Homo sapiens: one gene and its partners. The protein of the gene in region 5 purifies or fractionates together with the protein of the main gene of each other region. This does not show direct contact. Each region holds a gene or a part of one and is shown on either strand. Other genes may lie near its edges.

Evidence for each region.
Region 1: the proteins of OR5F1 (region 5) and GNPNAT1 purify together in Homo sapiens (affinity purification with mass spectrometry; 2 studies listed by BioGRID and IntAct, with this or other methods). This does not show direct contact.
Region 2: the proteins of OR5F1 (region 5) and FTO purify together in Homo sapiens (affinity purification with mass spectrometry; 2 studies listed by BioGRID and IntAct, with this or other methods). This does not show direct contact.
Region 3: the proteins of OR5F1 (region 5) and CCDC25 purify together in Homo sapiens (affinity purification with mass spectrometry; 2 studies listed by BioGRID and IntAct, with this or other methods). This does not show direct contact.
Region 4: the proteins of OR5F1 (region 5) and WDR44 purify together in Homo sapiens (affinity purification with mass spectrometry, with the first as the bait; one large-scale study listed by BioGRID). This does not show direct contact.
Region 6: the proteins of OR5F1 (region 5) and HMGCS1 purify together in Homo sapiens (affinity purification with mass spectrometry; 3 studies listed by BioGRID and IntAct, with this or other methods). This does not show direct contact.

The regions. Positions count from the first base shown.
Region 1 is NC_000014.9:52,778,151-52,781,607, forward strand, and holds part of GNPNAT1 (glucosamine 6-phosphate N-acetyltransferase), read right to left. Parts: intron 2,591-3,457; coding exon 2,529-2,590; intron 309-2,528; coding exon 161-308; 3' UTR 1-160.
Region 2 is NC_000016.10:53,707,156-53,710,655, reverse strand, and holds part of FTO (alpha-ketoglutarate-dependent dioxygenase FTO), read right to left. Parts: intron 1-3,500.
Region 3 is NC_000008.11:27,755,641-27,759,140, forward strand, and holds part of CCDC25 (coiled-coil domain-containing protein 25), read right to left. Parts: intron 2,450-3,500; exon of another isoform or gene 1,131-2,449; coding exon 1,079-1,130; exon of another isoform or gene 663-1,078; intron 1-662.
Region 4 is NC_000023.11:118,391,106-118,394,605, reverse strand, and holds part of WDR44 (WD repeat-containing protein 44), read right to left. Parts: intron 1,975-3,500; coding exon 1,335-1,974; intron 552-1,334; coding exon 421-551; intron 1-420. UniProt on the Homo sapiens protein: Downstream effector for Rab11 which regulates Rab11 intracellular membrane trafficking functions such as endocytic recycling, intracellular ciliogenesis and protein export.
Region 5 is NC_000011.10:55,993,181-55,996,043, forward strand, and holds OR5F1 (olfactory receptor 5F1), read right to left. Parts: upstream 1,446-2,863; coding exon 501-1,445; downstream 1-500. UniProt on the Homo sapiens protein: Odorant receptor.
Region 6 is NC_000005.10:43,303,413-43,306,912, reverse strand, and holds part of HMGCS1 (hydroxymethylglutaryl-CoA synthase, cytoplasmic), read left to right. Parts: intron 1-3,500. UniProt on the Homo sapiens protein: Catalyzes the condensation of acetyl-CoA with acetoacetyl-CoA to form HMG-CoA, which is converted by HMG-CoA reductase (HMGCR) into mevalonate, a precursor for cholesterol synthesis.

The DNA of each region.
Region 1 (3,457 bases), on a different chromosome or scaffold from region 5:
CCAAAGTAATCTTCTAAATGTCATTATACTTGTAGTATTACAATGTTTTTTCAGTCCAGTATTTATGGAGGTCACTCGGCTGCAGCAACAAAATATTTCAACTCTAGGAAGAGTGTAGCCTTGTAGCATTAGCCCCTTTGACAATTTTCTTACAAGATTTTTACTTTAGAAACCTCCGACACATGTAGTTTTCTTCAGATACAGTATATCCAAACTTTTTATAGAAACCAACATTTTGTGGTAGACATTCAAGGGTAATCTTGTAACAGTTCAGTTTCTTGCTTAGCAAAGTAAGGGTTGATAATAACCTGAAATTTAAAAAGGGGGTAGGGTGAGGAGATAGCATTTATTAATAAAAATTGATTCTAGTAACAATATGAATTAATGTTATAAAACTTAAGTTTCCTTAGAAACAGGTTTAGATTATGGCTTTTCCCACTGCATTCATGTAAGTTGATAAGCATTTAAATCACCAAAGCATTTTTACTTAGAGTCAAATATACTTTTATCTAGTAATCTCCAGCTCACTAATAAACAGGACAAATACAAAACTCACCCTAAGCCCTCTTTAAAAATGAAATTTAAGGCTAGGTGCAGTGACTCATACCTGTAATCCTAGCACTCTGGGAAGCCGAGGCAGGCGATCGCTAGAGCCCAGGGGTTTGACACCAGCCTGGGAAACACGGCAAAACCCCATCTCTACAAAATATAAAAATTAGTAGGGCATGATGGCACATGCCTAAAGTCGCAGCTACTCCAGAGGCTGAGGGGGGAAGATCACCTGAGCCCAGAGAGGTCAAGGCTGCGGTGAGTAGTGATTGTGCCACTGCACTCCAGCCTGGGCAACAGAGTGAGTCTCTGTCTTGAAAAAGAAAAACGAATTTTAAGATGCATGTTAACACTAAAAACTCAACCTTTAAAAAAAAAAATGACCAAAATTATTTTGTAAAAATTCTTTATTTAAATCTATTTAAACAACTTCGGAGCAGTCGACATACCCACATAAAATGAGTACATAATAGCTTTGCTCTTTAATCATTTTTAAAGCTACTTTAATATTTGTGAAGGTGTGTATCAGATTAACTCAAGATTGGTCTAATTAATATGAAGTGGAAACAAAGCAAGTCTACATCTATACAAAATTTCTTAATGAATCCAAACCCAGTATTAAAGTGTGGATCTAAGTGCCTTAGAGGATAAAAACTATAAAAGATATACAAACTTGAAGGGTCTGCCCATGTTTGAACAGACTAAAAAATCCTATTTTTAAAAAAAACAAAAGACCTTGACTGAAGTATGCCTGGCTGGTTGCAGTGGCTCATGCCTGTAATTCCAGCACTTTAGGAGGCCAAGGATCACTTGAGTCCAGAAGTTCGAGACTAGCCAAAGCAACATAGCAAAACCCTATCTCTATAAAAAATTAGCTGGGTGCAGCGGCATGCACCTGTAGTCCCAGCTACTTGGGAGGCTGAGGCGAGAGGCTCACTTGAGCCCCAGAAATTCAAGGCTGCAGTGAGCTGTGATCGTACCACTGTATACTCCAGCCTGGGCAACAGAAAGAGATCCCATCTCTTAAAAAAAAAAAAAAAAAAAAAAAAAACATAAATTATATAGACTAGAACACAAGAAATCGGTCTGTTTTGTTCACTGAGGTATTCCAAATACCTAGAATAGCATCTGGTACATAAGCAGGTATTTAATATTTGTTAATTCCTTAAAACTCAGAAGAGTTAGTGTTAAAAAGCAAGTTCTTGGGCCAGGCACAGTGGCTCCCACCTGTAATCCCAGCACTTTGGGAGGCCAAGGCAGGAGCACTGTTTGAGACCAGCCTGAGCAACATGATGAGGCCCCATCTCTACAAATTTTTAAAAATTAGCCAGGTGTGGCGTGTACCTGTAGTCCCAGCTAATTGGGGGGCTGAAGAGGATTGCTTGAGCCCAGGAGGCTGAGGCTGCAGTGAGCTGAGATTGAGCCACTGCACCTCAGCCTGGGTGACAGAGCTGTCAAAAACAGACCCTGTCTCAAAAACTAAAAATTATAATAAATAAGAACTACAAGTTCTTATAAAATGGCAATAAATCAATACCACTTATTTATATTTATTTTAAATGATTTAGATATATACAGTGAAGGCTGTTTCAGTATGTATTTCTACAACTTATGAGAATGAGAGATCACAGAATATTCTGTAATAGTTGAACATTTCCTTTGTTTTTAAATATGACAGAGAAGCTGAGGCAAATCCGATTAGCCCAAAAGTTTATCTCCTACTAGGACGAGAGCATTACTATAAAAAGTTAGTAATTTAAAGATGTTACTGTCTGTAAAGAAGTATGCTTCCAATTTTCAAACTTTAAGGCAAAATATGTATAATAATACTTTATTTCTTCATGAAATTCAGTCTAAACTATTAGAGTGAGAATAAGTTCAGAATTAATGAAGCCAAAAAGAACTTCAAACAAGTATCTTGTTAAGAAACTAAATTGGAACAAAATTTATCCAGGGTTACCTTGTTTCTGCCTACTTACAATTTGCCAAGCTGCTTTCCTCTGCATTCATCACTAACAACAACATCTTCTACTCTTCCTCTCTGAAAATATTTACAATGTTTAAAGGAGTAAGCATTTACTTTTGTTTTTAGCTAAAACGAGTTGGTAAGAATTTACTGATAATAAGTAGTATATTTTGTAAACTTGAACTTAACAGAAATCAAATGCAAAAAATATTATACAGTGAAGGCTGTTTCAGTATGTATTTCTACAACTTATGAGAAGGAGAGATCATAGAATATTCTGTAATAGCTGAACATTTCCTTTGTTTTTAAATATGACAGAGAAGCTGGGGCAAATCTGATTAGCCCAAAAGTTTGTTTCCTACTAGTATGAGAGTACTACTATTAAAAGTTAATAATTTAAAGATGTTTTTACTTATTAGAGGAAATAGTATGAGTCAAGTTGTGACCTAAACTTGTTTTGGCTATGTCCCCAACCTTCCCACCCCATTGTCTTTAAACAAATATCAGGATCAACATCACCAAAATGTAACCTTTTCATGAATATATCCATCATTCTACTCCTTGCTTACTAGCAAGTTATTTTAGATATCCAAATAAAATTAATGTCTAGTACAGAAACCCCACCGAAATTCCTAAGTGTGACAGAACACATCCCAAGTGTTCCTACCTTATTCTCATTGAATTAAGGTTTTCTCTCCCTCTTTTTTTATTTACTATTTTATGTGAGTTATTGAGGGATGAAAGGGCACTACATGCATTAGATGTATCATAATTAGAACGGAATAATCTGAACCCTTTACCATGTGGAAACAAATTTATGCTAACGTGGTATATTCAGAGTTGTTTTTTTTAAAAGAGTAACATTAGGGATTTTGTGCATTACTGCTAAGTTGTTTGGTTTCTCTATGCCTATACCAAATTGATCCACCTTACAGAACAATT
Region 2 (3,500 bases), on a different chromosome or scaffold from region 5:
CCTACAGCCAGGAGGCATATGTGGATTATAAATATGTGACCTCTAGAGGCCCCATCTTTCCTCAAAAATATACATGCAAAAATGCAAAATCTGGGCTGCGCACGGTGGCTCACGCCTGTAATCCCAACGCTTTGGGAGGCCGAGGCAGGTGAATCACGAGGTCAGGAGTTCGAGATCAGGCTGGCCAACATGGTGAAACCCATCTCTACTAAAAATACAAAAATTAGCTGGGTGTGGTGGCACGTGTCTGTAGTCTGAGCTACTCAGGAGGCTGAGGCAGAAGAATCGCTTGAACTCGGGAGGTGGAGGTTGCAGTGAGCTGAGATCGCGCCACTGCACTCCAGCCTGGGCAACAGAGCGAGACTTGGTCTCAAAAAAAAAAAAAAAAAGGCAAAATCTGAATCTAATCATAAGGAAACATAAGACAAATAAGAATACAGGGCCATTCTACAAAAAAATTAAATAAATAAATAAATAAATAAATAAAAGATAGCTTGCACACATCACAAATGTCAATGTCTTGAAAGAAAAAGGATGAGGAACCAATTTAAAGGACATGAAAGGACACCAGATTAAAGGAGAAGAGACCAAAGGGACCTGACAATGAAAGGTAATATGCAATCCAGATGGAACCTGGACCAGGAAAAAAATGCTATAAAATTCATTATTAGGACAATTAGCAAAATTTGAATATGGACTTTGGATGAAATAATAGCATTATATCAATGTTAACTTTTTCTGAAATTAACAATTGATTGTGTTTATATTTGTATGCAAGAGAATGTCCATGTTCTTAGGAAATATATGCTGAACTATTTAGGGGTAAAGAGGACTGATGTCTCCGACTTACTCTGCAATGGTTCATTAAAAAAATTGTTCATGTGGATATATATGGCGAGAAAGAGAGCAATAAAGTGAACACAGCAAGATGTTAACCTGTGAATATGGACAAACAGGTCTATGAGAGCTCTAGGTTCTACTCTTGCTCTTCAATAAGTTTTAAATCATTTCAAAATAATAAATTATAACATCTGGGAAAAAATGCATAGGGCCAGCCCCACCCCAGCAGAGGACCCCTCAGGCCACCAAACTCAATCAAGGGCATGCTACTCTACCCCTGGAATAGTAGCTAGACCTCATCACACTGGGTCCTCACACCAACCCACAGAAGCAGCTATTCTTAACCTCATTAATGACTGGAGAAACTGAGGCACGGGGTATGAATCCCCTATCCCTACAGTAAGGAAATAGTAGACGCCATGGTTCTAACTCAAACCATCAAATACTTATCTGGACTGTTCTATTATATGCCTTAGAAGAAAAGTTCATTTTAAAAATGCATGAATACCGTATAGTATTCTCATGTGCTTAACACAAATTAAATAAATGTTAATCGTAGAAAGCTATGTGGTCCAACCTTCTTATTCACCCTCCAGACTTGGAAACAGCATAAAAGTCCATAGCATAAGCAATCACAAGAGAGAAAATATGATCTAAGTTATTTCAAAGAGAAAAGAAAAATAAAAACTAAGTGCCCATTATGGGGATGACAAAGTTTAATTTAAAAAGCAAAAAAGAAATCTTTGTGACTTTGGGATAAAGACTGCATAGATATGACACAAAAAGCATGAATCATAAAAATAAACATTGATAAAGTGGACCTTTCTTAAAAACTATTAAGTAACCTAGATGAATGGAAGATAATGTTTGCAACACACATAGTAAACAAAGGATTTATATCTAGAAAATATAAAGAACTCATAAAACTTAATAATAGGAACACAAACAATCCAACAAAAAAATGGGCAAAGATTTTGAACAGACACTTCACAAAAGAAGATATACACATGTCCAATAAGCACATGAGAAGATGCATAACATTATTACCCATCAGAGAAATGCAAATCAAACCACAATGAGATACTACTTCACACCCACTATAACGGCTACAATAGAAAAGACAGACAACAACAAGTGTTGACAAGGATGTGACAAAATTGTAACCCTCAAAATGGCTGATGGGAAATGTAAAATGGTGTAGCCACACAAGTAAACAGTTTGTCAGTTTCTTAAAATGTTAAACATAGATTTACCATAAGTCCTGTAATTCCACTCCTAAGTATCTACCAAAGAGGAATGAAAACACGTCCACACAAAAACTAGGGTGCAAATGTTCACAGTAGCATTTTCCATAATAGTCAAAATGTAGAAACAAATCAAATGTCCATCAACTGGTGAACAGATAAACAAAATATGGTATATCCTGACACTGGAATTCTTTTTTTTTTTTTGAGACACAGTCTCACTCTGTCACCCAGGCTGGAATGCAGTGGCACAATCTGGGCTCTCTGCAACCTCTGCCTTCCAGGTTAGGTGATTCTCATGCCTCAGCCTCCCGAGTAGCTAGAATTACAGGCATGTGCCACCACTCCTGGCTAATTTTAGTATTTTTAGTAGAGACAGGGTTTCACCATGTTGGCCAGGCTGGTCTTGATCTAAGTTATCCTGACCTCAGGTGATCCACCTGCCTTGGCCTCCCAAAGTGCTGGGATTACAGGCATGAGCCACCATGCTCGGCCTGACACTGGAATTCTATCCACTGTGTAATAAAAAGGAACAAAGTACCAATATATGCTACAACATGGATGAACCTCAAAAACATCCTGGGTGAAAGAAGACCACATATTGTATGAGTCCATCTATATAAAAATGTCCAGAAAAGGCAAATCTAAAGAACAGAGTAGATTCGTGGTTCCCTAGGGAGGAAGTAGAATTGAGAAATAACTGCAAATGAATACAAAGTTTCTTCTGGAATGGAACTGTTCTAAAATAAGACGGTGGTGACAGTTACACGACTCTGCAAATATGCTACCAACCATTGAGTCCTACACTGAAAACAGGTGAATTTTATGGTATGTAAATTATACCTCACTCAATAAAGATTTACAAAAAGAGAGATATGCAACCTCATTAGTCATCACTGAAATGCAAATTAAAATCAAATATCACTGCACACCTACTAGAATGGTTAAAATGTAAAAGACTGACAAGCGATGAAAAGATATGAAACAAGTAGAACTCTCATTTTACATTCCTACTAACAGTTGGTAGGAATGTAAAAGGGTGCAGTGCATTTGAATATTGTTCCCCAAAAAGATATGTCCGAATCCAAAAACCCGGCACGTGTGAATGTAACCTTATTTGGAAAAAGTGTCCTTGCAAATGTAATTAAGTTGAGGCTCTTAAGGATCTCAGGATCATCCTGGATTTAGGACGGGTCCTAATCCAATGACTGGCATCCTTTTAACAGAAAGGAGAGAGAGATTTGAGACACAGAAACAGAGAGAAGGCCATGTGAAGATGGAAGCAGAGAAGTTATGAAGTGATGCTACCACAAGCCAAGGAACACCAGGGACACTAGAAGCTGGAAGAGGCAAGGAAGGAGTTTCCCCTAGAGTCCTTCAAAGGGAGTATGGCCCTATTGATGCCTTGATTTCAAT
Region 3 (3,500 bases), on a different chromosome or scaffold from region 5:
CTGGCCAGGCCATCAAGGCTCACGTCATCAATGATAAGTCACGGTAATACACGCACCCGATATGCTGTGACGAGACAGGCACTTCACCTCTGTGATATTCTCCCCCTAAACCCATAACCCGTCTAGTCACGAGAAAAAATATCAGATAAATGCAAACTGAGCAATAGTCTACAAAACACCTGATCAGTACTTCTCAAACTGTCAAGGTCATAAAAAACAGAGAAAGAATGAGAAATTGTGATAGACTAGAGGAGACTAGGCAGACACAACTAAATGTAATATGGTACTCTAGACTGGCTACTAGAACAAAAAGAGGGCATTAATAGAAAGTTGGTGAAATCCAAATAAAGTCCAGAGTTTAGGTGACAGCGATGTGCCAAGGTTAGTTTCTTTGTCTTGACAAATCTACCATAGTAATATAAGATGTTGATGATGGGGGAAACTAGGTGAAGGGTAGATGGGAACTCTGTATCACTTCTGCCACTTTTCTGGAAATCTAACATTTTTCCAAAGTTGAAAGTTTATCAAAAAGAAAGCAGTACACTCGCAAGCATATATACCCTATGATTCAACTATATAAAATATATGAATAGAGATAGATTGGAAAAATAGTGGTATTGTATTACTAGGGGCCACTAAAAATTTTTTTCCTTTATTACTAGCATGTTCTTTTAAACTTCCTAAAGAAGCCCATGATAACTGGGAACACGGGCCCTTCACTGAGGCAGGAGAATCACATGAGCCACACATGATATCCACTGGAGGAGACAGAAAGTCTGGGAGTGTCAACTGAATTGAAAGAAAAGGAAAGCAGAGATGACAGACAGCACACCGGAAGTGACAGGATAAGCAGTGCATCTAGCTGGGAAATATGTACACTGCCTCCTTCTATATCTCAAAAATCATCTAGAATGTTAGAGTGATTTTCTGGGTCAGAGGGAAGACACGTCTTCATTTGTTAACTTTTAGATTTGCGTACCAACTTATTACTGTAAGCAATTTAATTGCAAAGGATAAAGAACAAGATATGATGCATCATCAGGAGAAAAGTCAAGAATCCATGTTTAAATTCAGTTACCTTATGTAATCGAAGGTATACATGAGCCGAAGAGAGTTTGTCCACATGAAACCTACAAAGAATGAAAACCACTTTTAGCAAGAGGTACAAGACAATCATCTCCTCAGGCCACATGCCATTTAAAGCATTCTGTTCTAAAAAGTCTTCACTCCATGCCTGCCACATGTGAAGCATCATGAGGAGTATAAAGCACAGTCACCACCTCCAAAGGGCTCCCCATCACCATGAAGAGGTACGAGAAACACTGAATTATGGAGCTGTGAGTAAGTGCCAAGATGAGTAGAGATACTAAATATTAACTGTACTGGGAAGGGTGATTTTTCAAGATATAAAAAGAACTATCAGTGATCAAAGGCTTCATGATAAAAAGGAGGCAGTGAGATTTGGTTGGCCCCTGACTGAAGCATAGGACTTAGAGCAAAACCAAGGAAAGGAATTTCAGGTGAAAAGAGTGGGGGATGAAAGAAGTCAGCAAGTCTCCAATGCTGCCAGCCTGGGAGATTAGCAGAACCACAGTTTGGCGGAAACAGATGACAGTTTCGTTTGTGACATCCCAAATTTCAAGTTATAGCAAAACAATCCAAAGAGAATGTCGAATAGAGAGCTGGAAGAGTTAGGTGGGGCCTAAAGACGCTAAGCAGAACACGTCATTAAATGGGTCACAATTCAATAATGTAACCCAATAATTCACAAGCACAACAGTTCATCCGGCCCTATATTCTGACAGTGATACCAATATATGTCTCTTGGGTGAGCACTGCCCTTTACTGACATTGTCCTAAAAACATTCAGAATGTCCCCCACCCCTTAAATTTACCTTTCATGATGGATCTATCATCTATCAATTTAATTAAACCTTTTAAAATCTATGCAACATTCAGGATATGAGATTTTCATGTTTTCAATTCACCCAATGAACTTGACTTTCTCTTTCCAATACCCAGAAATGCCCCCTCCGCATCCCAGCATCACACAACAAACAAGGTAACACTATCGCCACTTCGTGATTCTGTTAACTTTAGTTGATATGATTTGGATTTGCGTCCCCACCAAGTCTCATGTCGAATTGTAATCCCCAGCGTTAGAAGTGGGGCCTGGTGGGAGGTGACTGGATCATGGGGGTGGATTCTTCATGAATGGGTTAGCACCATCCCTTTGGTGCTATTCTTATGATAGAGTTCTCATGAGATCTGTTTAAAAGTGCACAGCCCCGGCACCCTGCTCCTGCCATGTAAGCCGCCTCGCTTCCCCTTTGCCTTCTGCCATGATTAAAAGTTCTATGAATGAGGCCTCCCAGAAACAGACACTGCCATGCTTCCTGTATAGCCTGCCAAACCATGAGCCAATTAAACCTCTTTTCTTTACAAATTACCCAGTCTCAGGTATTTCTCTATAGCAATGCAAGATGGACTAATACATTAGTCATACTGCTTCCTTGGTCCTTACCTTTCCAGACTGAAGAATGTTCAGAAAATCCTAAAGAGGCATCATTACATCCCATTATGTTTCTCTAGCCATTTTCTTAAGCACTAATAAATGTTTTAGAGGTGAAAATGGTCACCTTCACACCTAGTACAAGATGTAGACTGTATGATTCTATATAAAAGTGCCCTCTTTAAAGAGGTTAGTCATCTTGCTATTCACTATGCATACAGAAAAATATTAGGCACTTTTGGCACACAGTTTATGATGACTCGAGGTTTTACTCTTAATCATTAGTGATAGCCAGAAATGGACATAACATCTTATTTGACTTACATTTCTCCAAGTGGTTCACTTACTCATTTGCATTCCCATGTGAGAGATTCATACTAATTATCACCTTCAGCTGGACATTTTCCAGCCAGAAAAACCTGTGCTTTTTGCAAATCTAAAAATTACATATCTCATTATCCTCTTTCAGAATCTTAGGAAAATATCACACTAGTAACCAAGATAACTGAAAAGTAACTTTACCCATTCCAACTTTTATTTGCCTTAAGCCAGTTCTCTATTTACAACATCTTCTTCCCTATGTACCTATAATAGATTGAATTCTGATTTTTCTTAAAGGTCTCTGATGTAGAATTTTGTCAAAAGAAATACCCAAATAATTCAATATATATTTAATGATATTCATACATAAGTAGAGAAAGAACCAAAACACACACAGGAATATCACTGCCAAAATACAGCAACTTTATCAATATACACCAATTTCAGGTTTGTATATGATAGATACACCTCTACAAAGAGCAGGGGAGAATGGATGAAAGTATAAGAGAAAAAAAAAATCCAGCTCTATAAACAAACTATCTTGAGCGAGTTTCCTTAAAAAAGAAGCAAACGACTTCTCCAATCTTTCTAAACATTTATTCAAAGTTTAAATTACAGCCATAGTTCCCTCTTATCCTTGTTATCTTCCTCTCCCTGTTACCCTTTC
Region 4 (3,500 bases), on a different chromosome or scaffold from region 5:
TTTTTCTATGATTAGGAAAAGGAAATTATAAAAAAAAAAAGTCTTCAATTCTGACCAATACAGGACAAACATAGACTATAGTTGGTGTTTATTAGTACCAACAATATTACAAATAGTAGCATCTGTCGTTTTTTGAATACCTATTACCTGCTAGATACTTGGCATATTTTAGCTCATTTCAAACCCTCAAGGAAGGACTTTTCCTCCATTTTATTGATGGGGCATCTGAGATCCAGATGCTAAACAGCTTGCTAGGCTCACCCAGTTAGCATGTAGCAGAGCTGATCAAGAGAAGTAAGGGGGTCAGGTTTGGAGGACAAAGAAAAATCTGGCCTGGAGAATACAGAATAATCATCAACAAACCAGCCAGTTGCAGGGAGCTGATAAAGTCTATATGAAACAGAACACTAATTCACCAACCTGGGCGGTAACTATTTTATCTCCACTGGTAGCACTTGCCAAATCAAGAGAAGGCTGAGAATCCTTAACCGTACTTTCTGAAGCCATGCTTGCGGTTAGGAGAGAATCAGACGTAATATTCTCTTTGGGAACTGCAATGATAATAATAACAACAATAATAACAACCCTTTTTGTTTGATTCTTGTAACAACCCTGTGAGGAAAGTGGCTTGATTACTCTCATTTCCTATACAGGGAAACCATGGTTCAAACAAGTTATTTAATTTCCTCAAGACTATACAGCTCATACAAAAAAAAGATGCAGGACTTGAATTCAGACTTTAGGTCTCCAAATCCCAAGTTTTTTTCACCATGCCACTCTCTCTCAGATGGCAACAGAATTGAAAGTTTGAAGTCTGCTGAAGTGTTCAATTACAGTAAAGTAATTTTCACCAATGTAAACATTTTTACATTTTGTCTATTACTAAAGAAATAATTTTAATAACTTGGTTGCCAGTGAGTTTTTTAATAAAGTGAAATAAAGGCAGAAAGGTAAACAGTTTCAACTCCAAAATTTCACCACAAAGAGTTATTTCTCTCTTTTTTTTTTTTTTTGAGACAAGATTTCACTCTGATCACCCAGGCTGGAGTGCAATGGCGCGACCTTGGCTCACTGCAGTCTCTGCCTCCCAGGCCCAAGCAACTCTCCTGCCTCAGCCTCCCAAGTAGCTGGGACTACAGGCGCGTGCCACCATGGCCAGCTAACTTTTGTATTTTTTTTTGTTGTTGTTGCTCAGATGGGGTTTTGCCATGTTGCCCAGGCTGGTCTTGAACTGAGCTCAAGCGATCCGCCCGCCTTGGCCTCCCAAAGTGCTGGGATTACAGGCGTGAGCCACTGTGCCCAACCAACAGAGTGATTTCTCAATTAATACTTGCCATCTATATCAGGAGTTTTCAGAGTCTCAAATTCCAATTCGCTTTTCCTTTTTCTTGGTGGTGGAGCAGGTCGAGAAGGAGGTGGGGGTCTAGGAGGTGGGAAATTAGTTGGAGGAGGTGGGCGTGCTGGAACAGGCTTCTTTGTACTAGCCACTATATCAGGCTCTGGAGTAAGGTGTCTTGGGGGTTTGGCAGGGGCCACTTCTTCCACAGCGGCAAAATCTTTAGTAGATAAGGAGTCTGAGGACACAGGCTCTAAAACATCACCACCTCCTTTGACTTCCACTGCTTCCTTGTTCAATACTTCTGTTTCAGTTTCAAGCACATTAAGCTGCTCAGTTGAACTTGTTTGAGTTAACTTCGTGGTTTCATCTACTGGTTTCTCACAGGTTTCATCAGAAGGAAAGCATTTTTTTAATTCTAATTCAGTCTCTTCAAATGTATTCTGACTCTCTGCCTTTTGGGATTCTTCCGGTAGTACTTGATCTATGGCTAACAGTCCGGGTATATTGCTCAGATCTGTTCTAGCCACAATAGGACTGGCAGTAGCTTGATCAGAGAGTTCTTTTCCTTTGGAATCCAAAGAGTCATCTTCAAGCTGTAGTACTTTCTGACTCTCCTCAATAATACTTTCAATAATCTGATGAAAGGGTTAAAAGTAGTTTTTAAAAATGAAGCTATTTATAAGAACACAGTAACAGCTAATCATTTACATAGTACTTAGTATGTGCCAGGCAATGTTCTTAACACTTTACATATTTTAATCTTTACAACAACCTTATGAGATTCTACTCCTACTGTCACCATTTTACAAATTAGGGAACTAATCAAATGATTTGTCCAAGGTCACAAAGCTAGTAAGTGATGAAGCAGGTATAAACCCAGGGAGTTTGATTCCAGCATCTATACTCTTAACCCTCATAATAGCAAATTTGTGTTAATACTTAGGTACAAAAGATCAAATAATCCTGTAAAATCAAGTTCAATCCTAAACTTACATTAAGACTCAATATCCTGATTCATTTACATATTTATGCCAAACTTGTTGTAATACCAGCCTAATGGTTTGAGCCTACTTAACCAAACCACGATAATCCAAATCCCCAGGAGAAGAATTCAAGTTGTTTAGCTCTGAACTCAAGCTTATGACCCAAAAACCAGCAGATGCAGGGAGATTAACATTCTTAAACAGACTACACCTAAACTCCACTATGTGGACTGATGGCAGGACCATGAAAAGAGTTCAAATACCCAGTCCACCTTGTCTTTTCCCTTCCTTTCTTTTTCTTTTTTGAAATGGAGTCTCACTCTGTCACCCAGGCTGGAGTGCAGTGGCACGATCTTGGCTCACTGCAACCTCTGCCTCCCAGGTTCAAGCAATTCTCCTGCCTCAGCCTCCCTAAAAGCTGAGATTACAGGTGCTCCACGCCGGGATAATTTTTGTATTTTTAGTAGAGACGAGGTTTCACCATGTTGGCCAGGCTGGCCTTTAACTCCCGACCTCATGTGATCCACCTGCCTCAGCCTCCCAAAGTGCTGGGATTACAGGCATGAGCCACTGCGCCTGGCCCCCTTTCTTATATGTAGCTTAAAATATAAACAGGCTTTCTATTATCTTCTGCCAACATTTAGAATATATTTTCTCCCCAGTCTTGTCATTACTAATATTAAATCTCCCAGATCACTTATCCTGCCACCATGTCCAACCATGAACAACTTCTGCTTTCTCAATTCCCTGGCTTCAGAAAGTTAACAGAATGCATCATAGAACCATCCTAATCTGGTTTACTACAATTTCATGCTAACTTGAACTGGGTATTACTGCTGCTCAGTAATATTCATCCCTGATTTCTTAGCATGTTCTATATGTTAGTTTTTCTCAAACTTCAAATTGTTAACCTTAGAAATTACCTTGCTTTCACCAAAACTAACCAGAGTCCAACCAATTTGTCAATTAGGTGGTTACTGAGCACTGAGAACCTCAATGATAACAGTGATAACAGAAGTCATATTACAATGGATTTGAGATTGAATAAGAGGTGAAGATACAGAGACATTAGCACGGTCTGAGTTTTCAAAAAGCTTAGCTATAAATGCAAAAAGACTTCGATAAAGTGACCCAGCACTTTTATAACCTGAAGGGAAGGAACTACTGGAAAAGAAGAT
Region 5 (2,863 bases):
TAGAATTCCTATTAAAACTATAGTCCTAAAATTTGATTTTATTCCCCCAAGAAGTAGTTCAGTGAATACAAAGGAGAAATATATATTAAACTTATAGCATTTCTCACCTATGTGATATTTAACAATCCCTTAAAAATCATAAATGGTGAAAAATAATGCATAAGAAAAAAAGAATGGATAATAGAAATTATTTTATATTTCCAGTTTCATGTATCATTGTGGCTTTGGTCTGTGAACATATATTCCATTTGATTTCTAGATGAAATTTCATTTAAAAATATTCATTATTTTGGAGAACCTAACAAAGATATATAGAATCATAGTAAAGTCAACATGCCATGATCTTGAATCAGTTTGGTAACTTTCTTTATCCCTAACTGGATACAACTATTAACAGAATGTGTTTACTGAGAAAATATTCTAATAAAAAAATGTAGATATAAACTAGACTTTGAAAGTAACTAAAATATGCTCTTTAGTTGAGATTTTTAGCCAAACAATCACAGAAAGGAAGAGGTCCTTTTCCTGCTAATTACATTCGCTAAAGCCTTCTTTACTTCCTTACTCCTGAGGCTGTAGATCAGAGGATTCAACATGGGAATCACCACTGTGTAGAACACAGAAGCCACTTTGTCCTGATTCAGGGAGTAGCTGGAACTAGGTCTCAGGTAAGTATAGATGCAGGTGGCATAGAACAGAATTATGGCTGTCAGGTGAGAGGCACACGTGGAGAAAGCTCTGTGCCTCCCCTCCCCCGAATGCATAGAAAAAATGGAGAAGAGAACGTAGGAGTAGGAGGAGAGGATGACAAGCAGAGTCCCCACAATATTCACACCAGCCAAAATAGAACTTATGCTTTCTTTCAGGATTGTGTCAGAACAAGAGAGCTTGAAAAGTGGGGGACTGTCACAGAAGAAGTGATGGATGACATTGGAGTCACAGAATGACAAGCTGCTGACATGGCTTGTGTTGACCATGAAGTTCAGCAACCCTGCAGCAAAAGCCCCGGCTGCCATTTTTAGGTAGACGGTCCTGGACATGATCAAGGAGTAAAGCAGCGGGCGACATATGGCCGCATACCTGTCATAGGCCATTAACCCAAAGAGGATGCATTCGGTTGTCGCCAGGGAGATAAAGAAGTACATCTGTAGGAAGCAGCCAGCAAAAGAGATGGTTTTCTTCTCTGATAATAAATCTGCCAGCATCTTTGGGGTGATGGTAGTTGAGTTACAAACGTCCACAAAGGACAGGTTAGCCAGGAAGAAATACATGGGTGTGTGAAGCTGGGAATCGATCCTGATTAAGAGGATCATCCCGAGATTTCCCAGTACTGTAAGTGTATAAATCACAAGAAAAAACAAAAAGAGGATAATCTGTAGCTCCAGCGTGTCTGCTAATCCCAATAGGACGAACTCAGTCAGTGAGGTATAATTTTTTCTGGTCATTTATGAGAAATATATTTTGTGTAAACTTTGTATTAGTTGCACATATTTTCCTCTCTAAAAGTTTACAAAAAAAAAAAAAAAGAAGTGTTAATAGGACAGTCACATATGGCAAATAAATAAACAAAAACCCAGAATAATATGTCATAATTACTGAAGTAAGAGGAATATTAGAGGACCCATGGGTAAGCATTTACATGTAATAAACAATTGATTGTATTGAATTGGAGTTGTAGGCTTCTCAAATCACTGGCTGAAGTCCACATACTCTATTTCTGTGAATACAAATACTTTGTTCTATTGTTTCTATACTAGCCCACATCCAAAATGTAAAATAATAAAAATATTCTTGCTAAAATTTCTCCCATTCTCAGAGCAGGTATGTGAATTTAACTCAATGCATTCTTTTTTAATTTTCTCAAAATCACTCTGTACATTCTTCAACTCCAAAATTCATACTTTATCTCTTGAGAATGGCTTATGTGTAGCCCTAAGCAGCAAAAAGAGTGACCATTTCAAATAATCAATATTTTCACATCTATTGTATCCTTAAAAATAATTTAGTGATGTTTTAAAAGTAAACCAAATGATTGTTATACTACAATGTCCATTATCAAGTTAATTCCAAGAAGCAGCCGACAGGGTACCTATCCACCTTACTTAATAACATTACCAAATCTTTAAAACTTCCTCCCCAGATGGCTACTTACCTAAGTAAGTAACTATTATTTTTTTTTTATCAGAGGTTCTTAGTTGGAGCTTAAAAATAAAAGAAGAAAATTTAATTTAAAAAATGCAGTGGAAAATTGAATTATCTATTGGTAAAATCTTAAGATGCCTTATGATTAAATACTTGTTACTGCACTTGTATTTTGTTTTTCTCCAAGAAGACAGGGTAACCATGGGGAGTAGATTATAGCTATTAATTGCAGAGTCAATTCTCTACAGGCAGGAGCTCTGTCTCAAAACAATATTAAATATAATATGATCACATAGAGATGTATGGAATCAGACATTATGAAAGTCTTACATCATAAAGTGGTTTGTGACCTCTGGAAAATAATTGTCTATCTACACTGACTCTCTCTGTGTCTGTATTTTTAGCTTATTCTAAGTGCGTGACTAAACTATCGTTCTCCCCCTGTGCCATTTTAGTATGTGGGTGCACCCCTCTTTTTTTCGGTGTGACTTAAAATTCAGCTATTTTCCTGTATAAAGGTAGTGAGAAAGGGTAGTTAATAAATATCTATTGTATGATTTTTAAAGAAATCCTATAACCTGAGCAAATAGCACAATAGATTTAAAAATTATTATATATTTATGATTTTGAAATTGTGTTGGTTTTTGCCGTTACTATTTGTGATTCTTATCCTGCAAAGACATGAAGCTATAGATTTTCTAGATCTAAATTCAAAAAGAAG
Region 6 (3,500 bases), on a different chromosome or scaffold from region 5:
AGATTAGAAGTCTAGTACCATTTCATTTATTCAACATTAGCATCTACCATATGCCAAACAGTGGGTTGGGTACCGGGGACACAAAAATGAACAAAGCACGGTTCCTGCTCTCCAAAAGCTCCTTGTTTAATGCAGAGAGGCTAAGCCTAAATAATAGAGGAGAAACTTGGCAGTTTGAAATATAAATTGAATTTTCCTTATCTGAACAATGCTTGGGACCAGCAATGTTAAAGATTTTGGATTTTTCTGGGTCTTGGAATATTTGAGAAAACATACCATTTGAGCAGCCCTAATCTGGAAATCCAAAATCCAAAATGTTCCAATGAGCATTTCCTTTGAGCATCATGTTGGTGCTCAGAGAGTTTCAGATTTTGGAGCATTTCAGATTTTAGCATTTTTGTATTAGGAATGCTCAACCTGCAGCATCTTGACAATGGTTAGACATGCAGTTTGGAAAAAACTGTTGGCCTATGACAGAGAAGAGAGCAGAGGCAGAGCTCACTTAGGAGAGACTGATGCTGAAGTCCTTCCCCAACACAGCCATTGAGGAGCTAGGTTAGGACTTCCCTTGCACCAGTATCATCAGCTAGTTTCCCTCCCCCTTTTTTCCCCTTTCCAGTTCTCTTTCATTTCCAGATTTATTCTCAGAATAACTATATAGGTCTTTTATGTATTCTAGGCAGGAAGCATTCAGAAAACATTAACAAGGCTTCCTTATCTTGCTTTACTGATTCTGGAAATAGCATATGGAGTTTCTTTTGTCCACCAGAGGGAGTGAGCCTTCACTTTAATGAGACTTATTTAAGACTTTAGTCCTCTGTTGGTACTACTTTGTTGGAAGACTTGAAAGGTTTACAAAGTTCTCTGAAAGTTGCCTTTTCTCGCCTTTTTTAAGGATAGAATTTAAAAAGAAAATGTGTGTATTTTATTATAAATACAGAGTCCTCATTATTCTCTTTAGACTTATTTTATGGTGAATATAGTACTCTGAAAATAATAAAATGCATTATCTGTAAAAAATTAAAAACGTAATTTTTTTAACCATCAGATTTTTAAAATTATGTTCTACTTGAAAGTTTTTGTGATTTATCTCTTTTTTTAAATTTTTTAAATTTTTTTTTTTTTTTTTTTGAGACGGAGTCTCACTCTGTGACCCAGGCTGGAGTGCAGTGGCACGATCTTGGCTCAGATCTTGGCTCACTGCAACCTCCGTCTCCCAGGTTCAAGTGATTCTCCTGCCTCAGCCTTCCAAGTAGCTGGGATTACTGTTGCCCGCCACCAAAACCAGCTAATTTTTGTATTTTTAGTAGAGAGGGGGTTTCACCATTTTGGCCAGGCTGGTCTTGAACTCCTGACCTTAAGTGATCCGCCCACCTCGGCCTCCCAAAGTGCTGGGATTACAGGTGTGAGCCATCACACCCGGCCTCTTTATTCTTAAATAGTGAATTAACCAGAATATTCTATTCTCTGGTAGGGTAAAGAGTGAATACCATAATGTGAGCACCTCAGACCTGTAGCTAGTCTTTTTTTCCCTAATTTATATCTAACTATATCTAGCCTATTTCAGAGAGCATTTGAAAGGACAATGTAAGAGCACATGCTCAATAGGATAGTTAAAAGTAACATTTGCTGGGCACGGTGGCTCACGCCTGTAATCCCAGCACTTCGGGAGGCCGAGGCGGGTGGATCACTTGAGGTCAGGAGTTTGAGACCAGCCTGACCAACATGGTCAAACCCCATCTCTATTAAAAATACAAAATCAGCTGGGTGTGGTGGCACCCGCCTGTAATCCCAGCTACTTGAGAGGCTGAGGCAGTAGAATCGCTTGAACCTGGGAGGCGGAGGTTGCAGTGAGCCGAGATCACACCATTGCACTCCAGCCTGGGCAACAAGAGCGAAACTCCGTCTCAAAAAAAAAAGTAACATTTGAGACCAGAAACTATTAACTTTCTGTTCTTCTAAATGTCATGAAAGCAATTATTTCTCTGTATTAATTTTCCTGTCAACTTAATCACTCTCTTTCTGAATTTGAACCAAAGGCTAAATATTTCAGATTAGATGGCTTTTTACCAAGAACATAATGGAAAACACATTGGCTGTCAGAAACCCTCAGAGAATGAGTAATATTGACTGACTTGGACAATGTAAAAATGTTTTTTTCCATCAAAGTCAGAATTGTGTTTCACTTTCCATTTGATGTATGTGGGTTATTTTAGTTAACCTACGTTTTTTGTTTGTTTTCAAATGAAACATGTCATGTATTTAATGTAGGACATTTAGGAGTCATAGAGTTGTATCTTATTTTAGGAGTACTATAATACAAAGAATTGATCAGAGCTGGTCAGACTGTGACAAATACAGATTAATTCTGAAATGGAAGCCTTGCATTATAACTTTTTATAGAGAATTGTACAAGCATTATAAGGATAATTAAATATATTGCCAGTGTTGCTACATGATGCTCTTAAAAGACTAAAGTGAATTTATTAGTGAGTACAAGTATATTGCAAACTGGTTTATACCTTCAAAAAGATATATTCCCTGTTCACTTTATTTCCAATAGTGTTAAAAACCACTGAGCCAGGCAAGGAAGACCATACTGTCTTCAGCATATTTAAAGCAGTTTGAAGAGTTGAAAAGAATCTAAAGGGTAGCCTTGTGGGAAAGGCTGGAAAGGTGGTTACTCCTACTTTGGTGACTTAAGAGATCATATGTAGGAGCTTATAAGCCTATGGACTAGTCTTTTTCTGATAACAGTAGTTGTAGGGCTCTTTCTTGTGGACTATCCAGTATCTTATTTTACTATAAACTTAGAATCCATGCCTAGTGGCATATTAGGCAGCCCTTTTATATTTTCATTTCAAATTCAGCAAAGTGGGCACCAACTTTATCAAAAAATTGATGGGGAGAGTTTGTTGAAGCTCAGAGTGAGGATGGATGTAGAACATTTCAAGTGCTTCATATCCAGAAAATCAGTAGTCCTCCATCTGAGTTGTAGACACAGGAAAGGAGTTGAAGATGAATGGAGTAGGAATGTAAAAGCCTTATCTTTACCCTCCTCAGCTTTAGGTCTTAACAAGAATGAGCCTCCCTTAGTCTTTCTTTATGCCCCTGTCCCTGAATGTTGGTGATGACATTGTTTTTCCTGTATTGAATACAAAAATATGGCCAGTAATTTAGGAATCAAGAGGATATAATTCGGAAGTAGACTGTTGTGTTTAGGAGTTTTTCTTTCCATTGTGGAATTGAGTAGCAGCGGTATATATGCTATGTCTGGTAAAATGGGCCATACAGTAGTCTAAGACATGAGGAGACCTTAAGGAGCTTGGACTTAGTTGAGGTGACCAGACTATTTAATCTGCTTAGGTGCCACAGCAAAATACCATAGAGTAGGTGGTTTAAACAGCAGACATTTATGATCTCATAGGTTTGCAGTCTGGAAGTCAGGGTGCCAGCGTGGTTGGTTCCCGATCAGGGCTCTCCTCCTGGATTGCCCGTGT